Linked DNA regions of Homo sapiens: all the other regions are linked to region 4. The links come from fine-mapping of genetic effects on gene expression. A gene starts in region 4. Each other region holds a variant in brackets. All regions are shown on one strand. Distances are from middle to middle. Region 1 holds the start of MIR6846 (microRNA 6846). Region 2 overlaps PLEC (plectin). Region 3 overlaps PLEC (plectin). Region 4 holds the start of NRBP2 (nuclear receptor binding protein 2).

Evidence for each region. PIP is the estimated chance that this variant, and not a neighbour inherited with it, causes the effect.
Region 1: its variant is fine-mapped to the expression of NRBP2 in monocytes after LPS (Quach 2016, PIP 0.95).
Region 2: its variant is fine-mapped to the expression of NRBP2 in whole blood (TOPMed, PIP above 0.99). The same link has a PIP of 0.9 or more in neutrophils.
Region 3: its variant is fine-mapped to the expression of NRBP2 in whole blood (TOPMed, PIP 0.95).

The regions. Positions count from the first base shown.
Region 1 is chr8:144,052,267-144,060,130 of GRCh38, reverse strand. OPLAH (5-oxoprolinase, ATP-hydrolysing) reads left to right here. Exons shown (of 27, transcript NM_017570.5): 2 at 46-269; 3 at 341-532; 4 at 1,052-1,151; 5 at 1,235-1,358; 6 at 1,440-1,635; 7 at 1,727-1,892; 8 at 1,983-2,121; 9 at 2,208-2,275; 10 at 2,418-2,683; 11 at 2,811-2,923; 12 at 3,013-3,183; 13 at 3,376-3,513; 14 at 3,608-3,746; 15 at 3,872-3,984; 9 more. The coding sequence starts at 99. It overlaps MIR6846 (microRNA 6846), which reads left to right and starts at 2,751; the gene lies at 2,751-2,810. RefSeq lists an enhancer at 7,376-7,864. The variant C/T (reference allele first, on the strand shown) is at 4,449.
Region 2 is chr8:143,917,216-143,925,079 of GRCh38, reverse strand. It overlaps PLEC (plectin), which reads left to right. Exons shown (of 32, transcript NM_201384.3): 31 at 1-2,576; 32 at 2,685-7,864. Among named protein-coding and RNA genes, the nearest start is that of PLEC, 18 kb to the left of the region's middle. The variant C/T (reference allele first, on the strand shown) is at 3,309.
Region 3 is chr8:143,926,102-143,931,920 of GRCh38, reverse strand. PLEC (plectin) reads left to right here. Exons shown (of 32, transcript NM_201384.3): 19 at 262-387; 20 at 1,385-1,537; 21 at 1,623-1,777; 22 at 1,859-1,985; 23 at 2,092-2,275; 24 at 2,350-2,507; 25 at 2,640-2,818; 26 at 3,929-4,067; 27 at 4,155-4,511; 28 at 4,586-4,669; 29 at 4,840-4,944; 30 at 5,039-5,137. Among named protein-coding and RNA genes, the nearest start is that of PLEC, 11 kb to the left of the region's middle. RefSeq lists enhancers at 2,932-3,181, 3,572-3,701, 5,742-5,819 and a silencer at 3,316-3,445. The variant G/A (reference allele first, on the strand shown) is at 1,904.
Region 4 is chr8:143,837,047-143,844,910 of GRCh38, reverse strand. It overlaps NRBP2 (nuclear receptor binding protein 2), which reads left to right and starts at 3,938. Exons shown (of 18, transcript NM_178564.4): 1 at 3,938-4,205; 2 at 4,682-4,804; 3 at 4,881-4,982; 4 at 5,086-5,175; 5 at 5,362-5,402; 6 at 5,503-5,597; 7 at 5,716-5,739; 8 at 5,811-5,894; 9 at 5,973-6,028; 10 at 6,136-6,231; 11 at 7,156-7,288; 12 at 7,402-7,504; 13 at 7,612-7,662; 14 at 7,737-7,864. The coding sequence starts at 4,077. MIR6845 (microRNA 6845) reads left to right here and starts at 7,095; the gene lies at 7,095-7,155. RefSeq lists enhancers at 2,591-3,320, 3,321-4,051, 7,363-7,864 and a silencer at 3,477-4,036.

The sequences.
Region 1 (7,864 bases), 220 kb before region 4:
AGTCCCACTCGCAGGTGAGCCCGGGCTGACCCCGCCTCCGTCCAGTTTTTCCAGGGCTACCAGCTGAAGAGCTCCTGTGGGACTCCAGCCCCACCACCATGGGCAGCCCCGAGGGCCGCTTCCACTTTGCCATCGACCGTGGGGGTACCTTCACAGACGTCTTTGCCCAGTGCCCAGGGGGGCACGTGCGGGTCTTAAAACTGCTCTCAGAGGACCCTGCCAACTATGCGGACGCGCCAACCGAAGGCATCCGCCGCATCCTGGAGCAGGTGGGCCAGGGCGGAGCGGGTGGACAGGGACCCCACGGCCAGAAGCCCCACACTGACCACGTGGTCCCCAGGAGGCCGGCATGCTCCTGCCCCGGGACCAGCCGCTGGACTCCAGTCATATCGCCAGCATCCGCATGGGCACCACAGTGGCCACCAACGCACTGCTGGAGCGGAAGGGGGAGCGGGTGGCGCTGCTGGTGACACGTGGCTTCCGAGACCTGCTGCACATTGGCACCCAAGCCCGTGGGGACCTCTTTGACCTGGTGAGCTCCATGTTGGCTGGGGACCAGGCTGTGTGGTGTACACCCCCCAGGGATGCCTTGACCCTGTGGGGAGAGCAGTTGTTGGATTAGTGATGGCTCATGGGCACCAGCCGACAAAGAGGAAGCTCCCGAATTCCCAGTGGGACCCCAAGTTCTCCTAGCCCTCGGAGTGGGCACAGGATGCCCTGTTCCTGCCTGCCGCCATGCCCACCCTGGATGCTGGTGTGGGGCCACCCAAGCTACCCTGTTCAGGCAGAGGAGGGGTGGAACCCCGCACCTACTGCTGCGTTTCCGGAAGAAGCTGCCTTCGTGGGGGTGGAGCAGTTGGCTGCACTCAGCTGCCTAGGGGGTGGAGAGCTGCCCCCTTGGTGAGCCTTGCTGGGGCTGCCAGGTATGACTCTCCTGGGCCTGCCGACCGGCCTGTTGGGACACAGCCACTCACCTGTACCACCCACTCACACAGGACCCCGGCCTGGACCCTCAGGCCTGGGCCTCTTCTGAGTCTCTGCCCGCCCCCAGGCCGTGCCCATGCCTGAGGTGCTGTATGAAGAGGTGCTGGAGGTGGACGAACGCGTGGTGCTGCACCGTGGAGAGGCGGGCACCGGGACGCCTGTGAAAGGTGTGTGTGCCGCCGCTGCTGTGGGATTTGGGGCCGGAGGGTCCTGCTGGCCTTTAACGGGGCCTCCTGGGCTTTTCTGGAAGGCCGCACGGGGGACCTGCTGGAAGTGCAGCAGCCTGTGGACCTGGGGGCCCTGCGTGGGAAGCTGGAGGGGCTGCTATCTCGAGGCATCCGCAGCCTGGCTGTGGTGCTCATGCACTCGTACACGTGAGTGAGGTGGGGCTGTGGGCTGCGGGAGCAGGTGCCGGGCCTGGTGGGAGACGAGGTGCCACTGGGTTTTTGTCATAGGTGGGCCCAGCATGAGCAGCAGGTGGGTGTGCTGGCCCGGGAGCTGGGCTTCACGCACGTGTCACTGTCCTCGGAGGCCATGCCCATGGTGCGCATCGTCCCTCGGGGGCACACGGCCTGTGCCGACGCCTACCTCACGCCCGCCATCCAGCGCTACGTGCAGGGCTTCTGCCGTGGCTTCCAGGGCCAACTCAAGGTGAGGCTGTGAGGCACCCCCACTGCCCACTCCTGGGCCTGGGCCTGGGCCTTGGCCTGCCCCTCATGGCCCGCCTGCTGCCCGCTCGCAGGATGTGCAGGTGTTGTTCATGCGCTCCGATGGCGGCCTGGCGCCCATGGACACCTTCAGCGGCTCCAGTGCTGTGCTCTCGGGCCCGGCCGGCGGCGTGGTGGGCTACTCAGCCACCACCTACCAGCAGGAGGGTGGCCAGCCTGTCATCGGCTTTGACATGGGAGGTATGAGGGCCGAGGGCTGGGGTCTCGGGGAGGCTCAGCTGCTGGGCCCCTGGGTCTTCAAGTGACCCACCAGCACCCCACCCCTGCCAGGCACGTCCACGGATGTGAGCCGCTATGCTGGGGAATTCGAGCACGTCTTCGAGGCCAGCACAGCTGGCGTCACCCTCCAGGCCCCGCAGCTGGACATCAACACCGTGGCAGCGGGAGGGGGTTCCCGCCTCTTCTTCAGGTCAGCTCTCCTGCTTCCCAGGCTGGGACCCCAGCCCTGTCTCCCTCCTCGTGTCCAACTCCAACCCCAGCCCTTCCTTCCCCTAGGTCTGGCCTCTTTGTGGTTGGGCCCGAGTCAGCAGGAGCCCACCCAGGACCCGCCTGCTACCGCAAAGGTAAGAGTCAGGATCTGGCCGGCCTGGCCTTGCCCTCCGCTTGCCGCCGCAGGCCCAGCCCCTCCTGTCAGCCCTATCCCTGCTGCCTACTCCTGCTCCCCTGCCTCCAGCCCCCAAGCCCCACACCCTGTCCACCTCCCAGGGGGCCCTGTGACAGTGACGGATGCTAATCTGGTCCTGGGTCGCCTGCTGCCTGCCTCCTTCCCCTGCATTTTTGGGCCGGGAGAGAACCAACCACTTTCCCCTGAGGCCTCCCGCAAAGCCCTGGAGGCTGTGGCCACTGAGGTCAACAGCTTCCTGACCAACGGGCCCTGCCCGGCCTCCCCGCTGAGCCTGGAGGAGGTGGCCATGGGGTTCGTGCGCGTGGCCAACGAGGCCATGTGCCGGCCCATCCGTGCACTCACGCAGGTACGTCCACCTCTGCTCTCCCGCCTGTCCTGCCCCCAGCCCTGCTCCCTGCCCCAGGCCTCCTGCTCAGGCTGGGGGCTGGATGGGGTAGAGTAGGAGAGCCCACTGACCCCTTCTGTCTCCCTAGGCAAGAGGCCATGACCCCTCAGCCCATGTGCTGGCCTGCTTTGGGGGAGCTGGTGGGCAGCATGCATGTGCCATCGCCCGGGCCCTGGGCATGGACACGGTGCACATCCACAGGTGGGCCTGGGTGTGGGTGCACGGAGGTGGTGTGATCTGCGCCGGGCTTGGGAGGTGACCTCCCATTGCCATGCTGCCCATCCCTGCAGGCACAGTGGGCTGCTGTCGGCCCTGGGGCTGGCCCTGGCTGACGTGGTGCATGAGGCACAGGAACCCTGCTCCCTGCTCTACGCGCCTGAGACCTTCGTGCAGCTGGACCAGAGGCTGAGCCGCCTGGAGGAGCAGTGTGTGGATGCTCTGCAGGCCCAGGGCTTCCCCAGGTGGGCTCCCAGGGTGCCCTGGACAGAGGGCTTACGTTGTCCTCACCACGCCCTTGGTGGGTGTTCCTCCTGATGACTTCCCAGGTGGTCCCGGGGTGTGCGAGAAGCAGAACAGGTGTCCTTGCCGGGCGCTGGGTGGGGTGGGGTCAGGGCAGGGGGTTTGGTGTGAGTGCCCCCAACCACCTGCTGCAGGTCCCAGATCAGCACTGAGAGCTTCCTGCACCTGCGCTACCAGGGCACGGACTGTGCTCTGATGGTGTCTGCCCACCAGCACCCAGCCACAGCCCGCTCGCCCCGTGCGGGGGACTTCGGGGCAGCCTTTGTGGAGCGGTACGTGGCTTCCTGACTCCGGATCCCTGGCAAGGGGCCCTCCTGTCTGGCCGCCTCACTCTGACCACTCCTTGGGTCCCCGCGGGGAGTGCAGGTACATGAGGGAGTTTGGCTTTGTCATACCTGAGCGGCCGGTGGTCGTGGACGATGTGCGAGTGCGGGGCACCGGCCGCAGTGGTCTTCGCCTCGAGGATGCCCCCAAAGCCCAGACCGGGCCTCCCCGGGTGGACAAGGTTGGTGGTCCTGCCTGTGCCAGCCTGACAGCACCCATGGGGCACCGGGATGGGGACCAAGCCCTGTGAGAGGCATCGGGGAGGGTGCTGGGCCCGGGCGCTGTACTCACCCGCACCCTCTGCAGATGACCCAGTGCTACTTTGAGGGGGGCTACCAGGAGACCCCTGTGTACCTGCTGGCAGAGCTGGGCTATGGGCACAAGCTCCATGGGCCCTGCCTCATCATCGACAGTAACAGGTGGGCTGAAGTCCGGCCAGGGTGGAGGATGTGGACGGGTCCACTGCGGGGCCCCTGGTGCAGGGTTCTCTGGCCCAAGGCTGCAGGGGCCTGCAGGACTCTGTATCCCACCATCGTTGGGGTGGCCCCTGGCCTGGGGCCGTGGCATCTCTGGTTGGAGGGGTGTCGCCTGGCCCCATGCAGCCCTCTGTGCCCTCTGCTCCCCAGCACCATCCTGGTGGAGCCAGGTTGCCAGGCAGAGGTGACCAAGACAGGGGACATCTGCATCTCCGTGGGGGCCGAAGTCCCCGGCACAGTGGGCCCCCAGCTGGACCCTATCCAGCTGTCCATCTTCTCACACCGCTTCATGAGCATTGCTGGTGAGTGGCCGCTGCCAGGCTCCCTGTGGGATGAGGCGCCGGCTGTGTCATGGGGTAGCTGGCAGGGCTGTGCCCAAAGGGAGAGGCAGAAGCAGGACCCCCTGG[C/T]GACGGGGCGGGCAGTGTGGCCGCAGCACTGGTGTGGTGCAGTTGGCCATGAGAACAAACCTTGGGCAGGGAGGACACCTTCCCCCCTTACCTGCAGCCATGTGATCCAGAGAGTGCCCTCCTAGCTAAGGAAGGGATACTGAGGACAGCACAGGGAACCCATCTGTGCAGGGTCAGGCCAGCGGCTTGCTGGGAGCCCAGAGGTCAAGAGCCTAGGAACCAGGTTCTTGCTGTGCCAGGCAGGGTGGGAGGGTCGAGGGGTGGCACTGGGTTCTTGCTGGGGGCTCCAGGCAGGGCTGGGGAAGGTGGTGTCCTTTACATAGGCTAAGACGTGGCCAAGTGGGCACACCGTCAACTTGGTCTTCCCCAGGAAAAAGCTGCTGGGTTTTTCCTGGGTCCTGGGTTTGAGTCCTGGTGGGTCCTGTTCCTCCCTTTCCTGGGGCCAGGCTGTGGGTGGGTGGGGCCAGCGGGCCTGGTCACTTTGTGCTCCTAGAGCAGATGGGCCGCATCCTGCAGCGCACAGCCATCTCCACCAACATCAAGGAGCGTCTGGACTTCTCCTGTGCCCTCTTTGGGCCCGATGGGGGGCTGGTGTCCAATGCCCCCCACATCCCTGTGCACCTGGGTGCCATGCAGGAGACGGTGCAGTTCCAGGTGGCCCTTCCCCCGCCTCACCCTTCCATCCCCCTCCCTCACCCTCCACCCCCCCCCCACCCCGCTCTGGCCCCTGCTCCCCTGTGCCCACTCTGCACCCATCTCCTGGTTTCAGATTCAGCACCTGGGGGCCGATCTCCACCCTGGCGACGTGCTACTGAGCAACCATCCCAGTGCCGGGGGCAGCCACCTGCCAGACCTGACTGTTATCACACCGGTGAGGGGTGCTGCCCGCCTGCCTCTGCTGGGGCAGTGGTGGCCGATGCAGCTGACCGTGGCTCTCCACCCGCTAGGTGTTTTGGCCGGGTCAGACGCGGCCTGTGTTCTATGTGGCCAGCCGAGGGCACCACGCAGACATCGGGGGCATCACACCAGGCTCCATGCCCCCCCACTCCACCATGCTGCAACAGGAGGGTGCCGTCTTTCTGTCCTTCAAACTTGTCCAGGGGGGCGTCTTCCAGGAGGAGGGTGAGTGGGAGTGGGGTGGGGCAGGCCTTCTGTAGGCTGGGACACATGGCCACTGCTGGCAAGCAGGCCTGGCTGGACCGTGGGATGCAGCCCATAGGCCCAGGCCTGCCTTGAGGCTGGGAGGAGATAGGTGGTTACCCCAAAGGGCAGCTGCAGATCGGATCCCGGGAGCTGAGATGAATTCAGCCTGGGCCCAGGAAGGCCTCCCGAGGGGTGGTTTTGCGGGTGGAGAGTTAGCCAAGACGTGGAGGGTCAGGGTGCTGGAGAGAGAAGCCTGTTTCAAGGTGGGTGGCTGCTTGTGGTGTGTGCAGTCATACTGGGTGGGGTCCGCAGAGAAACAGCAGGGCAGGGGCAGGGCCCAAAGGCCCCTGTAGAGTTTTCTGGGCCTAGGTCTGAGTCACTGGGTGGTGGGTGGCCGTGAAGGGCTTTCAGCTGGGCCTGCGCTGAGCTCCCACTGTGCCCACGTGCAGAGAGGATTCGGGGTCTTGAGAGTGGCCTGGAGGCTGGGGGGCAAGGTGGGGGGAAGCTGCAGTTGCCCTGGATGATGCTGATGTCTTGGGCTGAGTGGAGAGCGAGGGCGGGGGGTGGGGGACAGTTTTAGAGGTGGAGGTGGGTATTTGGAGGGATTTGGGAGAGGGGGCCAGGGGTCAAGTTTGGGCAGCTGGAGGTGGAGGGCCTGGCACTGAGCAGCTGCAGGGAAGGGGGGATGGAGGCTGCAGGGGTGCCTGTGGTGGGGGTGGGGGTAGGAGAGACAGGGAAAAACAGCCCTGGTCTGAGGCTGCAGGTCTGGGAGCCCAGGGGAAGTGGCGTGGCCAGGGTGGAGGGTGGTGGCAGAGGGTGGGTGTAATGGAACCACAGGCTGTTCTGGGTGTTGAGGACACAGATAGGGTGGCCCATTGCTGGCTGCTCCCTTGGTCAATGTGAGCTGGGGCAGGGGTTGTGGACCACAGAGGGACATGCACAGGCACACTGCAGAGGGCCTTGTGGCTGCCTCAGAGGGGACCCTGAGCCAGGCTCAAGGAGAGGGGCTTTCCTGAGGTGCTGAGCAGTCCCAGGCCAGGCCTCGGTGCTTTCTAGGGGCCAGAGACCTTGTCTGGATCTGGGAAACCTGGGTTGGGGGTGCAGACAGGGTTGGCCAGGGGCTCAGTGATGACACTGTCCATCCAGCGGTGACGGAGGCCCTGCGGGCGCCAGGCAAGGTCCCCAACTGCAGCGGAACCAGAAACCTGCACGACAACCTGTCGGACCTCCGTGCCCAGGTGGCAGCCAACCAGAAGGGCATCCAGCTGGTGGGGGAGCTCATTGGGCAGTACGGCCTGGACGTGGTGCAGGCCTACATGGGCCATATTCAGGTGGGCCTGGGCACAGGAGTGTGGGCGGCAGGGCCATCCTGCAGGTGACCTGGCCACCACTGATCCTGCTCCCTGCCAGGCAAACGCTGAGCTGGCCGTGCGAGACATGTTGCGTGCCTTTGGAACCTCCCGGCAGGCCCGGGGCCTGCCCCTGGAGGTGTCCTCGGAAGACCACATGGACGACGGTTCCCCCATCCGCCTCCGTGTGCAGATCAGCCTGAGTCAGGTGGGCCGTGGGGAGAGTGCCTCTAGGCGGCAGGGGCACGGTGCGGCCGCTGACAGCCTCTCCCTTCCCTCGGGGCGCGCAGGGCAGCGCCGTGTTTGACTTCAGCGGCACTGGGCCGGAGGTGTTTGGTAATCTCAACGCACCGCGGGCCGTAACCCTGTCCGCCCTCATCTACTGCCTGCGCTGTCTGGTGGGCCGCGACATCCCACTCAACCAGGTTCGCAGGGGTGTGTGCGCGAGGGGGGGCCCCAGCCCGAGGTCACCCTGAGTGCGCCTCCTGGGCCCAGCCACGGTCTGACCCCACGGGTGCTGGGGCGGGGGGTGGGGTGCTGTTTCTCCCGGAGCCCACCCCAAGAGCTCCTGAGAGCCGCCCGCCCCGCACAGGGCTGCCTGGCGCCAGTGCGCGTGGTCATTCCCCGAGGCTCCATCCTGGACCCGTCGCCCGAGGCGGCGGTGGTGGGCGGCAACGTGCTCACGTCGCAGCGCGTGGTGGATGTCATCCTGGGGGCCTTTGGGGCCTGCGCCGCCTCCCAGGTGCGGGGGCGGGGTGGGCGCAGCTCGGGGGCGGACTGGGTGGGCAGGCTGGAGTAGGAGCGGGAGGGCGAGGTGGGGACGCCCTGCCCCAGCCCAGCGCAGCGACCAGGTGCCCTCACCAGGGCTGCATGAACAACGTGACCCTGGGCAACGCCCACATGGGCTACTACGAGACGGTGGCG
Region 2 (7,864 bases), 80 kb before region 4:
AGGCCGAGGCCGAGCGGGCGCGCGAGGAGGCAGAGCGGGAGCTGGAGCGCTGGCAGCTCAAGGCCAACGAGGCGCTACGGCTGCGGCTGCAGGCGGAGGAGGTGGCGCAGCAGAAGAGCCTGGCGCAGGCCGAGGCTGAGAAGCAGAAGGAGGAGGCGGAGCGCGAGGCGCGGCGGCGCGGCAAGGCGGAGGAGCAGGCCGTCCGGCAGCGGGAGCTGGCTGAACAAGAGCTGGAGAAGCAGCGGCAGCTGGCGGAAGGCACCGCGCAGCAGCGCCTGGCCGCGGAGCAGGAGTTGATCCGGCTGCGGGCCGAGACGGAGCAGGGGGAGCAGCAGCGGCAGCTGCTGGAGGAGGAGCTGGCCCGGCTGCAGCGTGAGGCGGCTGCAGCCACGCAGAAACGGCAGGAGCTGGAAGCCGAGCTGGCCAAGGTGCGGGCCGAGATGGAGGTGCTGCTGGCCAGCAAGGCGAGGGCTGAGGAGGAGTCGCGCTCCACCAGCGAGAAGTCCAAGCAGAGGCTGGAGGCCGAGGCCGGCCGGTTCCGCGAGCTGGCCGAGGAGGCCGCCCGCCTGCGTGCCCTGGCGGAAGAGGCCAAGCGGCAGCGGCAGCTGGCCGAGGAAGACGCGGCGCGGCAGCGGGCCGAGGCGGAGCGGGTGCTTGCGGAGAAGCTGGCCGCCATCGGCGAGGCCACGCGGCTCAAGACGGAGGCGGAGATCGCGCTCAAGGAGAAGGAGGCGGAGAACGAGCGCCTGCGGCGGCTGGCGGAGGACGAGGCCTTCCAGCGGCGGCGGCTGGAGGAGCAGGCCGCGCAACACAAGGCTGACATCGAGGAGCGCCTGGCCCAGCTGCGCAAGGCATCGGACAGCGAGCTGGAGCGGCAGAAGGGGCTGGTGGAGGACACGCTGAGGCAGCGGCGGCAGGTGGAGGAGGAGATCCTGGCGCTGAAGGCGAGCTTCGAGAAGGCGGCCGCTGGCAAGGCGGAGCTGGAGCTGGAGCTGGGACGCATCCGCAGCAACGCGGAGGACACGCTGCGCAGCAAGGAGCAGGCCGAGCTGGAGGCTGCGAGGCAGCGGCAGCTGGCGGCGGAGGAGGAGCGGCGGCGCCGTGAGGCTGAGGAGCGCGTGCAGAAGAGCCTGGCGGCCGAGGAGGAGGCCGCACGGCAGCGGAAGGCGGCGCTGGAGGAAGTCGAGCGGCTGAAAGCCAAGGTGGAGGAGGCGCGGCGCCTGCGGGAGCGAGCGGAGCAGGAGTCGGCGCGGCAGCTGCAGCTGGCCCAGGAGGCCGCCCAGAAGCGGCTGCAGGCGGAAGAGAAGGCACACGCCTTCGCGGTGCAGCAGAAGGAGCAGGAGCTACAGCAGACGCTGCAGCAGGAGCAGAGCGTGCTGGACCAGCTGCGCGGCGAGGCGGAGGCGGCCCGGCGGGCGGCTGAGGAGGCGGAGGAGGCCCGGGTGCAGGCGGAGCGTGAGGCGGCGCAGTCCCGGCGGCAGGTGGAAGAGGCCGAGCGGCTGAAGCAGTCGGCAGAGGAGCAGGCACAGGCCCGGGCTCAGGCACAGGCGGCTGCAGAGAAGCTGCGCAAGGAGGCCGAGCAAGAGGCGGCGCGGCGGGCACAGGCGGAGCAGGCGGCCCTGCGGCAGAAGCAGGCAGCTGACGCGGAGATGGAGAAGCATAAGAAATTCGCCGAGCAGACGCTGCGGCAGAAGGCGCAGGTGGAGCAGGAGCTGACAACACTGCGGCTGCAGCTGGAGGAGACCGACCACCAGAAGAACCTGCTGGACGAGGAGCTGCAGCGGCTGAAGGCGGAGGCCACGGAGGCCGCACGCCAGCGCAGCCAGGTGGAGGAGGAGCTCTTCTCGGTGCGCGTGCAGATGGAGGAGCTGAGCAAGCTCAAGGCACGCATCGAGGCTGAGAACCGCGCACTCATCTTGCGTGACAAGGACAATACGCAGCGCTTCCTGCAGGAGGAGGCTGAGAAGATGAAGCAGGTGGCGGAGGAGGCCGCGCGGCTGAGTGTGGCGGCCCAAGAGGCTGCGCGACTGCGGCAGCTGGCAGAGGAGGACCTGGCACAGCAGCGGGCCTTGGCAGAGAAGATGCTCAAGGAGAAGATGCAGGCGGTGCAGGAGGCCACGCGACTCAAGGCTGAGGCGGAACTGCTGCAGCAGCAGAAGGAGCTTGCGCAGGAGCAGGCGCGGCGGCTGCAGGAGGACAAGGAGCAGATGGCGCAGCAGCTGGCGGAGGAGACGCAGGGCTTCCAGCGGACGCTGGAGGCCGAGCGGCAGCGGCAGCTGGAGATGAGCGCTGAGGCTGAGCGCCTCAAGCTGCGTGTGGCCGAGATGAGCCGAGCCCAGGCCCGCGCTGAGGAGGACGCCCAGCGCTTCCGGAAGCAGGCGGAGGAGATCGGTGAGAAGCTGCACCGCACGGAGCTCGCCACCCAGGAGAAGGTGACCCTGGTGCAGACACTGGAGATCCAGCGACAGCAGAGTGACCATGATGCCGAGCGCCTGCGGGAGGCCATCGCTGAGCTGGAGCGTGAGAAGGAGAAGCTCCAACAGGAGGCCAAACTGCTGCAGCTCAAGTCTGAGGAGGTACCGCCCCCTCTACGTGCGACGGGCGGGTGGGCCCGGGGATCTGCTTTGGTGGGTGATGGGTGCTCCTGGGCTGGCGGTCCCTGATCACACCCTCTTCTTCTGCAGATGCAGACGGTGCAGCAGGAGCAGCTGCTGCAGGAGACGCAGGCCCTGCAGCAAAGCTTCCTCTCTGAAAAGGACAGCCTGCTACAGCGGGAGCGCTTCATCGAGCAGGAGAAGGCCAAGCTGGAGCAGCTCTTCCAGGACGAGGTGGCCAAGGCACAGCAGCTGCGTGAGGAGCAGCAGCGGCAGCAGCAGCAGATGGAGCAGGAACGGCAGCGGCTGGTGGCCAGCATGGAGGAGGCGCGGCGGCGGCAGCATGAGGCCGAGGAGGGCGTGCGGCGCAAGCAGGAGGAGCTGCAGCAGCTGGAGCAGCAGCGGCGGCAGCAGGAGGAGCTGCTGGCTGAGGAGAACCAGAGGCTGCGTGAGCAGCTGCAGCTCCTGGAGGAGCAGCACCGGGCCGCGCTGGCGCACTCAGAGGAGGTCACTGCCTCGCAGGTGGCTGCCACAAAGACCCTGCCCAATGGCCGGGATGCACTTGATGGCCCCGCGGCAGAGGCAGAGCCGGAGCACAGCTTCGATGGCCTGCGGCGGAAGGTGTCAGCTCAGAGGCTGCAGGAGGCCGGCATCCTGAGTGCGGAGGAGCTGCAGCGGTTGGCGCAGGGCCACACCACGGTGGACGAGCTCGCA[C/T]GGCGGGAAGACGTGCGCCACTACCTGCAGGGCCGCAGCAGTATCGCAGGGCTGTTGCTGAAGGCCACCAATGAGAAGCTGAGTGTTTACGCCGCCCTGCAGAGGCAGCTGCTGAGTCCCGGCACGGCCCTCATCCTGCTGGAGGCGCAGGCGGCCTCAGGCTTCCTGCTGGACCCTGTGCGGAACCGGCGGCTGACCGTCAACGAGGCTGTGAAGGAGGGTGTGGTGGGCCCCGAGCTGCACCACAAGCTGCTGTCGGCCGAGCGCGCCGTCACTGGCTACAAGGACCCCTACACTGGCCAGCAGATCTCTCTCTTCCAAGCCATGCAGAAGGGCCTCATCGTCCGGGAGCACGGCATCCGCCTGCTGGAGGCCCAGATCGCCACGGGCGGCGTTATCGACCCCGTGCACAGCCACCGCGTGCCCGTGGACGTGGCCTACCGGCGCGGCTACTTCGACGAGGAGATGAACCGCGTCCTGGCGGACCCCAGCGACGACACCAAGGGCTTCTTTGACCCCAACACGCACGAGAACCTCACGTACCTGCAGCTACTGGAGCGCTGCGTGGAGGACCCCGAGACGGGCCTGTGCCTTCTGCCACTCACGGATAAGGCTGCCAAGGGCGGGGAGCTGGTCTACACTGACTCCGAGGCCCGGGACGTCTTTGAGAAGGCCACCGTGTCTGCGCCGTTCGGCAAGTTCCAGGGCAAGACGGTGACCATTTGGGAGATCATCAACTCGGAATACTTCACGGCAGAGCAGCGGCGGGACCTGCTGCGGCAGTTCCGCACGGGCCGGATCACAGTGGAGAAGATCATCAAGATCATCATCACGGTGGTGGAGGAGCAGGAGCAGAAGGGCCGGCTTTGCTTTGAGGGCCTGCGCAGCCTGGTGCCAGCCGCCGAGCTGCTGGAGAGCAGGGTCATCGACCGCGAGCTCTACCAGCAGCTGCAGCGAGGTGAGCGCTCTGTGCGAGACGTAGCCGAGGTGGACACTGTGCGGCGGGCTCTCCGGGGTGCCAACGTCATCGCGGGTGTATGGCTGGAGGAGGCGGGGCAGAAGCTGAGTATCTACAATGCCCTGAAGAAAGACCTGCTGCCATCCGACATGGCCGTGGCCCTGTTGGAAGCCCAGGCCGGCACCGGGCACATCATCGACCCCGCCACCAGCGCCCGGCTGACCGTGGACGAGGCAGTGCGTGCTGGCCTGGTGGGCCCCGAGTTTCATGAGAAGCTGCTATCAGCCGAGAAGGCTGTGACAGGGTACAGGGACCCCTACACAGGGCAGAGCGTCTCCCTGTTCCAGGCCCTGAAGAAGGGCCTCATTCCCCGGGAGCAGGGCCTGCGCCTGTTGGACGCCCAGCTGTCCACGGGCGGCATCGTGGACCCCAGCAAGAGCCACCGCGTGCCCCTGGATGTCGCCTGCGCCCGAGGCTGCCTGGATGAGGAGACCAGCAGGGCCCTGTCGGCACCAAGGGCCGACGCCAAGGCCTACAGTGACCCCAGCACAGGGGAGCCGGCCACCTACGGCGAGCTCCAGCAGCGGTGCCGGCCCGACCAGCTGACCGGGCTGAGCCTGCTGCCGCTCTCAGAAAAGGCTGCTCGGGCCCGGCAGGAGGAGCTCTACTCAGAGCTGCAGGCCCGTGAGACCTTTGAAAAGACCCCGGTTGAGGTCCCCGTGGGTGGCTTCAAGGGCAGGACGGTGACGGTGTGGGAGCTCATCAGCTCTGAGTACTTCACTGCGGAGCAGCGGCAGGAGCTGTTGCGTCAGTTCCGCACGGGCAAGGTCACCGTGGAGAAGGTCATCAAGATTCTCATTACCATCGTGGAGGAGGTGGAGACCCTGCGGCAGGAGAGGCTGTCCTTCAGCGGCCTCCGTGCCCCTGTGCCAGCCAGCGAGCTCCTGGCTTCCGGGGTCCTCAGCAGAGCCCAGTTTGAGCAGCTCAAGGACGGCAAGACGACGGTCAAGGACCTTTCGGAGCTGGGCTCCGTGCGGACGCTGCTGCAGGGCAGTGGCTGCCTCGCCGGCATCTACCTGGAGGACACCAAGGAGAAGGTGTCCATCTACGAGGCCATGCGCCGGGGCCTGCTGAGAGCCACAACGGCTGCGCTCCTGCTGGAGGCGCAGGCGGCCACTGGCTTCCTGGTGGACCCCGTGCGGAACCAGCGCCTGTATGTCCACGAGGCCGTGAAGGCGGGCGTGGTGGGCCCCGAGCTTCACGAGCAGCTGCTGTCTGCCGAGAAGGCCGTCACCGGCTACAGAGACCCCTACTCGGGCAGCACCATCTCCCTCTTCCAGGCCATGCAGAAGGGCCTGGTTCTCCGGCAGCACGGCATCCGCCTGCTGGAGGCCCAGATCGCCACGGGCGGCATCATCGACCCCGTGCACAGCCACCGCGTGCCTGTGGACGTGGCCTACCAGCGCGGCTACTTCAGTGAGGAGATGAACCGCGTCCTGGCGGACCCCAGCGACGACACCAAGGGCTTCTTTGACCCCAACACGCATGAGAACCTCACGTACAGGCAGCTGCTGGAGCGGTGCGTGGAGGACCCCGAGACGGGCTTGCGCCTTCTGCCACTGAAAGGGGCGGAGAAGGCTGAGGTGGTGGAGACCACGCAGGTGTACACTGAGGAGGAGACAAGAAGGGCATTTGAAGAGACACAGATCGACATTCCCGGCGGCGGCAGCCACGGCGGCTCCACCATGTCCCTGTGGGAGGTGATGCAGTCGGACCTGATCCCCGAGGAGCAGCGGGCCCAGCTGATGGCTGACTTCCAGGCCGGCCGGGTGACCAAGGAACGCATGATCATCATCATCATCGAGATCATTGAGAAGACAGAGATCATCCGCCAGCAGGGTCTGGCCTCCTACGACTACGTGCGCCGCCGCCTCACGGCTGAGGACCTGTTCGAGGCTCGGATCATCTCTCTCGAGACCTACAACCTGCTCCGGGAGGGCACCAGGAGCCTCCGTGAGGCTCTCGAGGCGGAGTCCGCCTGGTGCTACCTCTATGGCACGGGCTCCGTGGCTGGTGTCTACCTGCCCGGTTCCAGGCAGACACTGAGCATCTACCAGGCTCTCAAGAAAGGGCTGCTGAGTGCCGAGGTGGCCCGCCTGCTGCTGGAGGCACAGGCAGCCACAGGCTTCCTGCTGGACCCGGTGAAGGGGGAGCGGCTGACTGTGGATGAGGCTGTGCGGAAGGGCCTCGTGGGGCCCGAGCTGCACGACCGCCTGCTCTCGGCTGAGCGGGCGGTCACCGGCTACCGTGACCCCTACACCGAGCAGACCATCTCGCTCTTCCAGGCCATGAAGAAGGAGCTGATCCCTACTGAGGAGGCCCTGCGGCTGCTGGATGCCCAGCTGGCCACCGGCGGCATCGTGGACCCCCGCCTGGGCTTCCACCTTCCCCTGGAGGTGGCTTACCAGCGTGGCTACCTCAACAAGGACACGCACGACCAGCTGTCAGAGCCCAGCGAGGTGCGCAGCTACGTGGACCCGTCCACCGACGAGCGCCTCAGCTACACGCAGCTGCTCAGGCGGTGCCGTCGTGACGACGGCACCGGCCAGCTGCTCCTGCCACTGTCGGACGCCCGCAAGCTGACCTTCCGTGGCCTGCGGAAGCAGATCACCATGGAGGAGCTGGTGCGCTCGCAGGTCATGGACGAGGCCACGGCGCTGCAGCTGCGGGAGGGCCTGACCTCCATCGAGGAGGTCACCAAGAACTTGCAGAAGTTCCTGGAAGGCACCAGCTGCATCGCTGGTGTCTTCGTGGACGCCACCAAGGAACGGCTCTCGGTGTACCAGGCCATGAAGAAGGGCATCATCCGCCCCGGCACAGCCTTTGAGCTCCTGGAGGCGCAGGCGGCCACCGGTTACGTCATCGACCCCATCAAGGGACTGAAGCTGACGGTGGAGGAGGCTGTGCGTATGGGCATTGTGGGCCCCGAGTTCAAGGACAAGCTGCTGTCGGCCGAGCGCGCCGTCACTGGGTACAAGGACCCCTACTCTGGGAAGCTCATCTCCCTCTTCCAGGCCATGAAGAAGGGCCTGATCCTGAAGGACCATGGCATCCGCCTGCTGGAGGCCCAGATCGCCACGGGCGGCATCATCGACCCTGAGGAGAGCCACCGGCTGCCCGTGGAGGTGGCCTACAAGCGCGGCCTCTTCGATGAGGAGATGAACGAGATCCTGACCGACCCCTCGGACGACACCAAGGGCTTCTTTGACCCTAACACGGAGGAGAACCTCACCTACCTGCAGCTGATGGAGCGTTGTATCACTGACCCCCAGACGGGCCTGTGTCTCTTGCCGCTGAAGGAGAAGAAGCGGGAGCGGAAGACGTCCTCCAAGTCCTCCGTGCGCAAGCGCCGAGTGGTCATCGTGGACCCCGAGACGGGCAAGGAGATGTCAGTGTACGAGGCCTACCGCAAGGGCCTGATTGACCACCAGACGTACCTGGAGCTGTCCGAGCAGGAGTGCGAGTGGGAGGAGATCACCATCTCCTCCTCGGACGGCGTGGTCAAGTCCATGATCATCGACCGCCGCTCCGGGCGCCA
Region 3 (5,819 bases), 88 kb before region 4:
CCTCCGCACTGTGGCTCAGCGGCAGCCTTGCAGGAGCCCCTGGACCCCCTCGGCAGCTCCAATCAGGAGCCCTCCTGTCTGCAGACGTTGCCAGCTGCTGCCTGCAGCCTGACCGGGGCCTTGGACAGGGGTGCTCCCCAGGCCTCCTGGGGGCTTTGCCACTCCTTCCTCAGTGCCCCCGTCTTGGGCCTGCCCTGGGACAACTGTGGGCTGGGGCTCTGGTCCCAGGTAGCCTGGCGTGACCCCCTCCCGCTGCCCCAGTTCTTCTCAGATGTGCGGGAGGCCGAGGGGCAGTTGCAGAAGCTGCAGGAGGCACTGCGTAGGAAATACAGTTGTGATCGCTCCGCCACCGTCACCCGGCTGGAGGACCTGCTGCAGGATGCCCAGGTGAGGGAGGGGGTGTGCAGGGGCGTGTCAGGAGGGGCTGGCCTGGAGTCTGGGCTGCACGGGTACTCTGGAGACTAGGGGGCAACTGGAGGGGCCAGCAGGAGTTGGGAGGCACCATGGGAGGTGTAGAGGTCAGCCGAAGCGGGAATGAGGCAGGATGTTCTGGGCTGCATGGGTACTCTGGAGACTAGGGGGCAACTGGAGGGGCCAGCAGGAGTTGGGAGGCACCATGGGAGGTGTAGAGGTCAGCCAAGGGGGGAATGAGGCAGGATGTGGGGAGCCGAGAGGCAGCCGGTCCAAGCCGGGCCGCCCCCATCTCCATAGCCACAGAGTGAGTGGAAGCCTGAAGTCAGCAGCTGCCGCCAGCCCTTGTGCTGTAGAAGGGGCACCGCCAGCCCTTGTGCTATAGAAGGAGCACTGCCAGCCCTTGTACTATAGAAGGGGCACCAGCTGTTTGGCCTGAGATCTGGAGCGGGCAGAGTGGAACTGGGCTTTGTGCTCTGGGAGCAGGGGTGGGATCACCCAGGAGGGCGGGTGCACAGTGGGGAGTGACAGGGAAGAGGGACTGGAGACTGAAATGGCCTCTGAGGTCGGCAGGGCTGGGCCGGGGGGAGAGCCGGCAGCTCCCAGGTGTGTGCCGTCCTGCGGCCTGGCCCCCGCAGAGGGGTGGGATGGGAGGAGGCAGTACCTTCTGCAGCCCGCAGGGGAGGGGCAAGGGGCGAGGGCATTGTAGGGACCAGAGCGTAGCTGGGAGGACATGGTGGGTGAGCTGGGGTGAGAGGAGGGTGCCCTGTCTGGGTTGGGAAGGAGCGAGGGTGCATGGGTCTGCTTGGGGCCAACCCCCGGGGCCTGTCCCAGCTATACCTCCTGCTTCCAAGTGCTGCCACCCCGGGAGCATCAGGAGGGCCCCACAGGCCTGGTCCCGGGGTCTGGGGGTGCCTGGGGCAGGCCTGTGGGTCTCCATGGCCCTCGTCTGGATGCTGCCCCTCCCCCACAGGACGAGAAGGAACAGCTGAACGAGTACAAGGGCCACCTCTCAGGCCTGGCCAAGCGGGCCAAGGCCGTCGTGCAGCTGAAGCCCCGCCACCCAGCCCACCCCATGCGGGGCCGCCTGCCCCTGCTGGCCGTGTGCGACTATAAGCAGGTGGAGGTGAGCGCAGGCCGGGGGTCCACTGGGGGGCGTGGCCAGGCAGGGCAGGGTGTGGCCATGTCCTCACCGACTCTGCCCGTCCCAGGTGACTGTGCACAAGGGTGACGAGTGCCAGCTGGTGGGCCCTGCACAGCCGTCCCACTGGAAGGTGCTCAGCAGCTCCGGCAGCGAGGCCGCCGTGCCCTCCGTGTGCTTCCTGGTGCCCCCGCCCAACCAGGAGGCCCAGGAGGCCGTCACCAGGTGGGTGGCGGGGGCTCAGCAGGTGGGGGCTGGAAGGCGGGTGGGGCGCTGGTGACGCTGACTGTAGCCCTGACCTGCCAGGCTGGAGGCCCAGCACCAGGCCCTGGTCACGCTGTGGCACCAGTT[G/A]CACGTGGACATGAAGAGCCTTCTGGCCTGGCAGAGCCTTCGCCGCGACGTGCAGCTCATCCGCTCCTGGTCCCTGGCCACGGTACGCCTGCCCCCGAGCCGGGGGCTCTCTGGGTGGGAGGAGGGGAGAGGCGTTGTGCAGGGCACGGCCGCCTCGCCCGGCACTCAGCCCCACGTGCTTCCCCCAGTTCCGCACCCTGAAGCCAGAGGAGCAGCGCCAAGCCCTGCACAGCCTGGAGCTGCACTACCAGGCCTTCCTGCGGGACAGCCAGGACGCGGGCGGCTTCGGACCCGAGGACCGGCTGATGGCTGAGCGCGAGTACGGCTCCTGCAGCCACCACTACCAGCAGCTGCTGCAGAGCCTGGAACAGGGTAGGGCACGGCAGGGCTGGGGCGGTTGGGCTGGTGCGAGGTGGGCGGTGGAGTGACCCACATGTGTTCCCCAGGTGCACAGGAAGAGTCTCGCTGCCAGCGCTGCATCTCCGAGCTCAAAGACATCCGGCTGCAGCTGGAGGCCTGTGAGACGCGCACCGTGCACCGCCTGCGGCTGCCGCTGGACAAAGAGCCGGCACGGGAGTGTGCCCAGCGCATCGCCGAGCAGCAGGCAGGGGCCGTCCCCCCCCATCCAGTCCCATCCCTCTCCCCATCCCTCCTCCCACCCTCCCTCCTTTGGCCTTCAAGGGGCGCTGTGTGCTGCGCTCGGTGATGAGTGCGTTCCCACTCCCTGTCTTTGCAGAAGGCACAGGCAGAGGTGGAGGGGCTGGGCAAGGGGGTCGCCCGGCTCTCTGCCGAGGCCGAGAAGGTCTTGGCCCTACCAGAGCCATCGCCTGCGGCCCCCACGCTGCGCTCGGAGCTGGAGCTGACGCTGGGCAAGCTGGAGCAGGTCCGCAGCCTGTCTGCCATCTACCTGGAGAAGTGAGTGCACCTGGCCACAGGCGAGGGGCTGGGGTCGGCTGGGGGGTGCTGGGGTGAGGGCTGTGACCTTGCAGGAGGGTGCAGGAGGGAACGAGTTGGGGGCTGTTCAGAGATCTGGCCAGGAGGCGGGAGGCCCAGCTGGGGTGGTGGCCGCAGAGGTGGTGAGAAGAGTTCAGGGCTGGATACGCTTCGACAGTGGCGGCCGGGGGACTTCCTGGTGATGAGATTCGGGTGTGGGGAAGAGACAGTGGAGCTGGGCAGCGGCTGCTGAGTGAGGTGGGGAAGCTGTGGATCCACTTTCAGTGGCACAGTAAGGAATCCTGCACCCTGCCTCTCGTCTGTCCTGTTCCTGGCCTGGACTTAAGGGCCTCTGGCATTTATTTCCAATGTGTTATGTCATAGTCTCTTCCTGTGTTGCAAACCACAGGTCCACCCGCTGTCTACTCCTCACAGAACCAGCACAGTGATAGGGCCGCCGCCTCTTCCTGTGTTGCAAACCACAGGTCCACCCGCTGTCTACTCCTCACAGAACCAGCACAGTGATAGGGCCGCCACCTCTTCCTGTGTTGCAAACCACAGGTCCACCCGCTGTCTACTCCTCACAGAACCAGCACAGTGATAGGGCCGCCGCCTCTTCCTGTGTTGCAAACCACAGGTCCACCCGCTGTCTACTCCTCACAGAACCAGCACAGTGATAGGGCCGCCGCTGGCTACCACAGGGTGCCATTTCCACCCCGGTGTCCCCTTCGCCCAGTCTTGGGCTGCAAGGGCTGAGAACTACGCTTCCAGGCCCTGTGGGCACCAGGATGCCGCTGTCATCCAGCCAGTGGGCTCGTCCTGTCTCGGGGCCTTGGGGTCTGCCGTTCCTGGCTGGCGCACCCCCTCTCCAGGCTGGGTCCTGAGTGTCCTTGTGTTACAGAGGCTCCCAACCTCCTTCTCCCCAAGGCTGTTCTTCTCCTGAAGCAAGCCTCTGACCACAGGGTCAGCTGACCCCCAGGGTTGGGTCTGGGCTTGGCAGGCAGCACCCTGGGTCGCTGTGGCTTGGGTTCCATTCCCTTGGGCTATTGCTCGAGCCCCATGTCATGGCCCTGAGCCCCGCTTTCCCGCCAGGCTCAAGACCATCAGCCTGGTGATCCGCGGCACGCAGGGGGCCGAGGAGGTGCTCAGGGCCCACGAGGAGCAGCTCAAGGAGGCCCAGGCCGTGCCGGCCACCCTCCCGGAGCTCGAGGCCACCAAGGCCTCTCTGAAGGTATCGTTTCGAGGCTTGGGCTTCATGGCGGGGTGGGGGTACAGCGGGCCCAGCTGAAGCCGCACATGTCCCTCCTGTCCCCAACAGAAGCTGCGGGCCCAGGCCGAGGCACAGCAGCCCACGTTCGACGCCCTGCGGGATGAGCTGCGGGGGGCACAGGAGGTGGGGGAGCGACTGCAGCAGCGGCACGGGGAGCGGGACGTGGAGGTGGAGCGCTGGCGGGAGCGGGTCGCCCAGTTGCTTGAGCGCTGGCAGGCTGTGCTGGCCCAGACCGACGTGCGGCAGCGCGAGCTCGAGCAACTGGGCCGCCAGCTGCGTTACTACCGCGAGAGTGCAGACCCCTTGGGCGCCTGGCTGCAGGACGCCAGGCGGCGGCAGGAGCAGATCCAGGCCATGCCGCTGGCCGACAGCCAGGCTGTGCGGGAGCAGCTGCGGCAGGAGCAGGTGGGCTTGGGTCGGTGGGGACGGGGCGGCTGGGCGTGCCCTGCGGCCACGGCTCTGACCACACCATCACCCAGGCCCTGCTGGAGGAGATCGAGCGCCACGGCGAGAAGGTCGAGGAGTGCCAGAGGTTTGCGAAACAGTACATCAACGCCATCAAGGTGAGGCCCAGCCGCCTGCACCAGGCCCCAAGTCCGGGACCGTTGCCAGGATGATGGCGGGCTTTCCCTGAGCCTGGGCCATGCCAGGGAAAGCCCATGTGAGGGTTTAGGGGCTGGGCAGGGGCCATCGGAGGGCAGAGCTGGTGGCTGACCGCAGTGCATTGCCACAGGACTATGAACTCCAGCTGGTGACGTACAAGGCGCAGCTTGAGCCGGTGGCCTCCCCGGCCAAGAAGCCCAAGGTCCAGTCGGGATCAGAGAGTGTCATCCAGGAGGTAGGGTGGGGCCGAACCTAACTGGGTGAGGGGCTGGCAGGCCTCTGGCTGGAGCTGCAGCTCTCGCAGGGCTAACCCTGGCTCTACTCCACAGTACGTGGACCTGCGTACGCACTACAGCGAGCTGACCACACTGACGAGCCAGTACATCAAGTTCATCAGCGAGACTCTGCGGCGCATGGAGGAGGAGGAGGTACAGCCCGTTGGGCGGAGGCTGGGCAGAGGGTTCCATCTCACCACCTGTTGTGTCCCACACACAGCCACAGGAGCTGCCTGAGGCCACCTCTCGTGGCCCTCCCCACTCTCCCCACTGGCGCTGCCAGCACCCCCTGCCCCCAGCTCAGCCTGCCCCAGGCTGCCCCACCTGTGGCCTGCCCCCCTGGCCTGGTGTGGCTACACTGCTCCCCCACAGTGGCTGGTGCCGCCTCTCCTCCCTCGTGAGCGTCCCCCCTGCAGCCTAGCGGCCGTCCTGTGGGCTCTTCCTTGGCGTTCTGCGTTGGCCTTTCCGCTCAACCCTTTGCTGCCAGAAGTCGGGGGTGCTGAGTTGTGGGGCTAGGGAGGGTCTTCCAAGGCACCCATCTGTTGGCTTCTCCCTACCTTCTGCGTGGCCCTGAATCCTCTTCCGAGTTGGCTCGGGTCTGCACTGCTGTCTCCACGCTGGCCGCCTCGCCTCACCCCGCCCCACCCAGGCTTCCCACCCTGGTCGGGGAGAGGGGTCCAGTGGTGGGAGCCAGGCCCACTGGTGTCCAGCAGAGCTCAGGCAGGGCTGTGTGCTGGGTGTGGCTCGCAGGTTCCGAGCTCCTGCTTTGCTCTCTCTCTCCCCGTCCGTCTGTCTCCGTCGCCTGTCTGCGGGAAGCAGGGAGGACGCCTGGGCC
Region 4 (7,864 bases):
ATCGGTAGGGCTGATGCTTCCGGAGGCTCCGAGGGAGAATCCATCCCAGGACTCTCTCCTCACCACTCATGGCCCTGGCAGTCCCAAGTAGGGTCCAGCCCCACAGGGACGGTGGGTCTCTCCCCGTGTGCAGAGACGAGAGAGTGTAGAAATAAAGACACAAGACAGAGATAAAAGAAAAGGCAGCTGGGCCCGGGGGACCACTACCACCAAGTCGCGGAGACCGGTAGTGGCCCCGAATGCCAGGCTGCACTGATATTTATTGGATACAAGACAAAGGGGCAGGATAAGGAGAGTGAGCCATCTCCAATGATAGGTAAGGCCACGTGGGTCATGTGTCCACTGGACAGGGGGCCCTTCCCTGCCTGGCAGCCGAGGCAGAGAGAGAGAGGAGACAGAGAGAAAGACAGCCTACGCCATTATTTCTGCATATCAGAGACTTTTAGTACTTTCACTAATTTGCTACTGCTATCTAGAAGGCAGAGCCAGGTGTACAGGATGGAACATGAAGGCGGACTAGGAGTGTGACCGCTGAAGCACAGCATCACAGGGAGACGGTTAGGCCTCCGGATAACTGCAGGCGAGCCTGACTAATGTCAGGCCCTCCACAAGAGGTGGAGGAGTAGAGTCTTCTTTAAACTCCACCGGGGCAAGGGAGACTCCCTTTCCCGGTCTGCTAAGTAGCAGGTGTTTTTCCTTGACACTGCGCCTACCGCTAGACCAAGGTCCACTTGGCAACAGGCATCTTCCCAGACGCTGGCGTTACCGCTAGACCAAGGAGCCCTCTGGTGGCCCTGTCTGGGCATAACAGAGGGCTCGCACTCTTGTCTTCTGGTTACTCCTCACTATGTCCCCTTAGCTCCTATCTCTGTATGGCCTGGTTTTTCCTAGGCTATGATTATAGAGTGAGGATTATTATAATATTGGAATAAAGAGTAATTGCTACAAACTAATGATTAATGATATTCATATATAATCATATCTAAGATCTATATCAGTACAACTATTCTTATTTTATATATTTTATTATACTGGAACAGCTCGTGTCCTCGAGTCCCAGGCACGCCTTGACCTGTGGGTACATCCCTCCAACACTGGCCTCCATGTTCATGTGACTGTCTACCTTATTTCTCTGCACCCCAAGTATCCCTTTTCTTTCTCTGATAAGGACATCAAACATTGGATTTAGGGCCCACCCCAGCATCTCAAGATCCTAAACTTATTTACATCTGCAAAGACCATTTTTTTTTTTTCAAATAAGGCTGTGCTCCTAGGTACTGGGGATCAGGATGTAGACTTTTGGGGGACACTATGTGACCTACCACAGAACATGTGTGTCTGGTTATGGGGGCGGAGAAAGGGGAGGAAATTCATTGAGATTCTTCTGCTCAAGGCTTACCTCCTTAGGGGCTTCTCTGGACCACACCCGCCAAAACGCACCCCTGCCCACCCACAGATCCATTCAACAAGTGTTTGCTGAGGGCCTGCTGTGTGCCGGGTACCGTCCTCGCACCAGAGAAAGAGCAGGGACAACGAGCAGACACTCCTGCCCTGCGGGAGCTCGAATCGCAACAGGGACACAGACAGTGAAGAAGAGAGATGAGAAAAACCCAGATGCAAGTCAGGTGGGGTGAATACTCCGGGAAAAGTCAAGTCAAGCAGGCGAAAGGGTGTGGGGACTGTGATGTCAGGATTCGTGGTCAGGACAGGCCTCTCAGGAAGTGACCTCAGAGGATGTTTGGGAAGGGCGTTCCGGGCAAAGGTATAACCAGGGCAGAGACCCTGAGGGGAAGTGCCTGTCATGTCCGATGGCACAGGGCCGTGTACTTGGGGTGGGCTCAGCTGAAGAAGGCAGCTGACGTGAGGTAGGGTAATGGGACCAATTACTGGGCCTTCATGTTTAGGCCCTCATACCAAGTGAGAAGGGACCACTGGGGGGGCTCCCCAAAACCACCCTCAAGTTCAATGGTTCACTAGAAGGACTCACAGAACTCGGAAAGGGTACTATTTATTACAGCAATGGATGCGTTAAAATCAGCAGTGGCAAGGACTCACAGAACAGAACCCAGGACAGACCAGCACGGGTCTGCAGGTGTCCCCACCCACTGCAGGCATGGGGACAGTGCTCAACCTCCCAGCACTGAGGTGTGACAATGAGCACAGCATGTCAGCAGCCAGGGAAGCCCTCCGTACCTCAGTGTCCAGGGTTTTTATTGGGTTGGTCACACAGGCATGGCTGACCTCCCAGGTGGCTGACTTTGGCCTCCAGCCCCTGCAGAGGTCAGGCTGATGCCACATGGCCCAAGGTCCCCCCGTAGACCATATTGTTAGCACAGACCAGGGGTGTCCAATCTGTGGGCTTTCCTGGCACACATTGGAAGAATTGTCCTGGGCAATACCCTTAAATAAAATACACTTAACACTAACAACAGCTGATGAGCTTTAAAAAAAATCTCAATAAGAAAGTTTATGAATTTGTGTTGGGCCATATTCAAAGCTGTCCTTGGCCGAATGCACCCTCTGGGCTGCGGGTTGGACAAGCTTAGCATAGAATCTGGTGTGGCCGAGGTAAACACAGACATTCAAATCAGGCAGAACATTCCAAGGGCTTAGAGGGTGTCTCCCAGGAGCTGGTCAGGGCCAGTTTCAGGGTGGAGGATTTGAACACCCCAAACCTTTACTGCAGAGGGCCTCAGCAGGATCACCTGGCATTGGTGGAAACCACACACAAGGTGCCTGGTGACCAAGGCTGGTCAGAAAAGAGAGACCACAGGGGACGCAGCAGGGCCAGATGCACCTCTGCCAAAGAAAGAAAGAGGCGTCCCAAAGGGCCAGTGCATGGAGCTGCGCGGAGGGGAGGAGCGGAGTTCCAATTTGGGCTCCAGAGAGAGAAGGTAAAGGATGAGGACCCGCCGTGAAGGAGGGAGGAGACCACAGGAAGGCCGTGGGGGCTGTGGGCTGAAGGGGGTTTTAGGTGAGAATCGGGGACAGCCCCGGTGGTCGGCGTGGCTGGAGGGTGTGCTTAGAGCGGCCTCCGGAGGGAGAGGTCGTGTGAGCCGGGTGGGCTCCCCCCTCATGGTTCCACTGTCCCATGGGAGCCAGCCGCGGAAAGGAAATGCGCGTTTGAGGAGAAAAGAGAAAATCGCCATCCTGGAAAGTGAGAAGATGGGCTTGTGGGCGGGAGGAGGCACTGGTGGGCGGGCCAGGGAGAGATTCGTGGTCACCGATCAAAGTCAGCCTGGGTCAGCCTGCTGGTGGGCCTTTCCCCCGCCCTCGGTGCCCCTTCGACCTGTCCCTTGGGGGTCGGCCGGGGAATGAGTGCGTGGCCAGGAGAGCGGGTCCCGCTTTCGAGCCCGCGGGGTCTTCTGCAGCTGGAGGGTGCCGTGGGCTTGGGGGCCCCCAGATGCCCCGGGTCTTCCCCCAGATCCTAGGGGAGCAACCGCGAGAGAAGTGGGCGCTCCGGGCTCCAGGTGTCCGCAGGGCGGGGCCTCCGAGGGGGCGGGGATTTGGGGGCGGTTCCTCTGCGCGGGGCGGGGCCTCATAGGGGCGGGGCTTCGAGGAGGTGAGGCGGGGCCTGGGGTGGGGCTTCGCGGAGGACCCTGGGAACGGGCGGGGGCGGGGACTAAAACGGGGCGGGGATTCGCGGGGGTGGGGCGGGTCCTGGGGCGGGGCTTCGCGAAGGAGGCTTGGAGGACGAGGAGGGGACAGGGCCTGGGGAGGGGCTTCGCGGAGCAGGCCTGGGAGACGAGGAGGAAACAGGGACTGGGGCGGGGCTTCGCGGGGCGGGGCCTCCGGGGGGGCGGGGCCTGGGCGCGGCCCGGGCTCGGCAGCTCTCGGGGAAGCTCTGCTCTGGCTCCGGCAGGCACAGGCGGCTCGGGAGGTGCGCGCCGGCTCCGCCCCCGGGCCCCGCCCGTCCGCCGCGCGCCCGCGCCTCCCAATTCCCAGAGCCGGGGCTGGGGCTCTAGGCTGCCGCGGCGGCTCTAGGCTGGGCTGCTGGGCGCGAGGCCAGGGCGGGCCGGGAGAGGCTGCGCCGGCGGCGGATCGCGCAGAGGGCGGTGGCCTGGGCTGGCCGAACCATGGCGGCCCCGGAGCCGGCGCCGAGGCGGGCCCGGGAACGGGAGCGGGAGCGGGAGGACGAGAGCGAGGACGAGAGCGACATCCTGGAGGAAAGCCCGTGTGGTCGCTGGCAAAAGCGACGGGAGCAGGTGGGCGCGGGGGTTGGGGCACGGGGTGACACCGCCCTCCCAGAGCGGGAGGGGCCTGGAGGCTGCGCGGGGCGTGGGGGCGCTGGGAGAGCGCGGCGGCTGGAAACCTCTCCGCGGCCCCTCGCGGCCCGCGAATCAGCCACCCCTGGACCCCTTTGGCCTGGCGCTCGCCCTGGGACTCCCTGAGGGCCAGTCTCCTCCCAGGACCACCTCCCCATGCCTCTGGACTCAGCCGCTAGCTTCCTGGGGATCCCCCTCGACCCCCTGAAACCTGCTCCAAATCCCCTTAGCCCAGCCCTTGGATAGGAGCCCTTGGCTCCTGGGGGCAGCTACCCTCCAAGCCCCACCTTCCCGCAGAGTGGCTCAGGGCCTGCAGCCCACGCTTGGGCCCACTGGAAAGGTGTGGACAGGGACCAAATCCTCACCCACAACCCTGACACACACCAGGGCACACATAACCCTTTATTCACCCCCAGGTAAACCAAGGGAACATGCCAGGGCTTCAGAGCACCTTCCTAGCCATGGACACGGAGGAGGGGGTAGAGGTGGTGTGGAACGAGCTCCACTTCGGAGACAGGAAGGCCTTCGCGGCGCACGAGGTGAGACCGCTGCCCCCTCCTCATCCTGCTTGGGTGACCACCTGCTGACCACCCAGCGACCACCCTCCCTCCCCAGGAGAAGATCCAGACCGTGTTCGAGCAGCTGGTGCTGGTGGACCACCCGAACATCGTGAAGTTGCACAAGTACTGGCTGGATACCTCTGAGGCCTGCGCGAGGGTGAGCACGGGCAAGGCCCCGGGCAGGCAGAGACCACAGCTAGGTGGGGCGGGCATGGGGACGAACCCGCAGCTGGTGGAAATCCTGAGCTCGCACCGTGCAGGTCATCTTCATCACAGAGTACGTGTCATCAGGCAGCCTCAAGCAATTCCTCAAAAAGACCAAGAAGAACCACAAGGCCATGAACGCCCGGGTATGGGGAGCGGGCTGGGGCAGCCACGGGGACAGGACGGGGTTGGGGCAGCCTCGGGGACTGGGATGGTGAGGGGGTGCCCGGCGGCCTCGGACAGGGGCTGGGCGAGGATGCGGGGCGGGCTCCGCAGGCCCAGCCGCCTCTCCTGCGCCCACCCGACCGACGGAGTCGTGCGTCCGCCGCCAGGCCTGGAAGCGCTGGTGCACGCAGATCCTGTCTGCGCTCAGGTGAGGGCCTGGGCTGGCCTGGGCGCGGCGCCACCGAGCCCCCATCTCTCCAGAGCCTCCTGACCGGCTCCTCCTACTCTCCCCTCCCCAACGTCTGCAGCTTCCTGCACGCCTGCAGCCCCCCAATCATCCACGGGAACCTGACCAGCGACACCATCTTCATTCAGCACAACGGCCTCATCAAGATCGGCTCCGGTGCTGGCGGGGCAGGGCTGGGTGGGGGAACGGGGCAGGGGAAGGTGCCTGGAGCCAAGGGCAGAGGAGTTCTGATGCCCCAGCAGCTAACTCCACTCTTTCTCCCGCCCCTTGGCAGTGTGGCACCGAATCTTCTCCAATGGTAAGTGCGGACTTTGGGGGGACGGGGTCCTGGAGAGGTCCCCGCCCGCTCAGCTCTGCGCCCTCCCACAGCACTTCCAGATGATCTCCGAAGCCCCATCCGCGCTGAGCGAGAGGAACTTCGGAACCTGCACTTCTTCCCCCCAGAGTATGGAGGTGAGTGGTGCTGGGTCCGGGTGCCCCGTGCCTACCCTGCGCTTCTCTCCTACGTGTCCTGTGCTCTCTTCTGTTCAGAGGTGGCCGATGGGACCGCTGTGGACATCTTCTCCTTTGGGATGTGTGCGCTGGAGGTACTGCCCCCGCCCTCCACCTTGTGCTCTGCCCTCCTCCTAACTGTGCCCTGCCTGGCTCACCTGTGTGGTCCCTTCCCCATGCCTGACCTGGCTCTGTGCCCCAGATGGCTGTACTGGAAATCCAGACCAATGGGGACACCCGGGTCACAGAGGAGGCCATTGCTCGCGCCAGGCACTCGCTGAGTGACCCCAACATGCGGGTAAGCAGCTTGCCCTGCCCCTCCCCAGCTGGCTCACCGTGCTCAGCTAGGGCTAGCAAGGTGCTCCAGGCAGACCTGGGAGAACATCACAGTTTGTGCAGTTGAGGGGTATACCAGCTGACTGCACCCCTCCCAAAGAGGACCTCAGTGGGAGCACATACTGGTTCCAGGCCTGAAGGCCCTAAGGGGTCAGCACATTCTAAGGACAAGAAGGCAAGAGAGACCCTCCCTCTGTGGCTGCCATCACCATGCCCGTTTTATAAAGAAACCAAGGTTCAGAGGAGATGAGTCCTTTGCCCAAGGCTTTAGAGTGAGTGGTGGAGCCAACATCTGCACCTGGGTCTGCTTCACTCCAAGTCCTTGACTTTAAGCTTCCAGGAGGTGATGAGGCTCCAGCTTGTGGGGGGACATGGTGGGTGCCAAGCAGGCAAAAAGAGGTATGGGATGGAAGCTGCATCCACAGCCCCCTCTGCTCGGAGTCTAGACTTAACTCCATGGCCTCAGGAGATGGGGGTGCCTGGTCGGGGCTGGTGGCGAGCTGGAGCCGGGCTGGGCACGGATGTGGACAGAGTGGGGACCCATCAAGGTCGTCTCCAGTGTTGGGCCCGAGCTGAGCCGATCAAAAGGCCATGGGTAGGAGGCTTGCAGGTGTGACTTTAGGATCATGGCTTCTCCCCACGATTTTTTGGGGGTCGAGGGAAGCAGAGCATGGTGCTCCAATCCCAGAACCCAGCTGTCCTCAAGCTCAGAGGACCAGGTCCTGGCCTGGCTGCTGCTGCTGGGACTCCTCCCTATGGGCATCCCTGCATGTCCTGTGTGTCCCTGAGGAGGGACATGGGGAACTCAGGGGCCACCTCTCCTCGAACTGCGGGGCCAGAGCAGAGAGCCCTTGCACACCACCAGCCTCTCCTCCCTGTGCCCCAGGAGTTCATCCTTTGCTGCCTGGCCCGGGACCCTGCCCGCCGGCCCTCTGCCCACAGCCTCCTCTTCCACCGCGTGCTCTTCGAGGTGCACTCGCTGAAGCTCCTGGCAGCCCACTGCTTCATCCAGCACCAGTGTGAGCAGCAGGCCGGCCCGGGGGGTGGCTGGGGAGGTGGAGGTTGGGACGTGGAAGGGGCCCTGCAGGACCCACGGCCTGAGCACACCGCCTTGATGCTCTTGTGGCCGCAGACCTCATGCCTGAGAATGTGGTGGAGGAGAAGACCAAGGCCATGGACCTGCACGCGGTCTTGGCGGAGCTTCCCCGGCCCCGCAGGCCCCCGCTGCAGTGGCGGTGAGCAGTCAGCACCCAGAAGCCTCCCCTCCCCACACCTCCCCTCCCCGCACCTCCCCTCCCCTCGCCCCGGCCAGCCCCTCATGTGCCTCCCACTTCCATGCCAGGTACTCGGAAGTCTCCTTCATGGAGCTGGACAAATTCCTGGAGGATGTCAGGTGAGAACTGATGTAAGGTTGGGGGCCAGGCAGCTGTCAGGCCTGAACCCCCAGCCACCCTGTTGTGTCCCCAGGAATGGAATCTACCCACTGATGAACTTTGCAGCCACTCGACCCCTGGGGCTGCCCCGTGTGCTGGCCCCACCCCCGGAGGAGGTCCAAAAGGCCAAGACCCCGACGCCAGAGCCCTTTGACTCTGAGA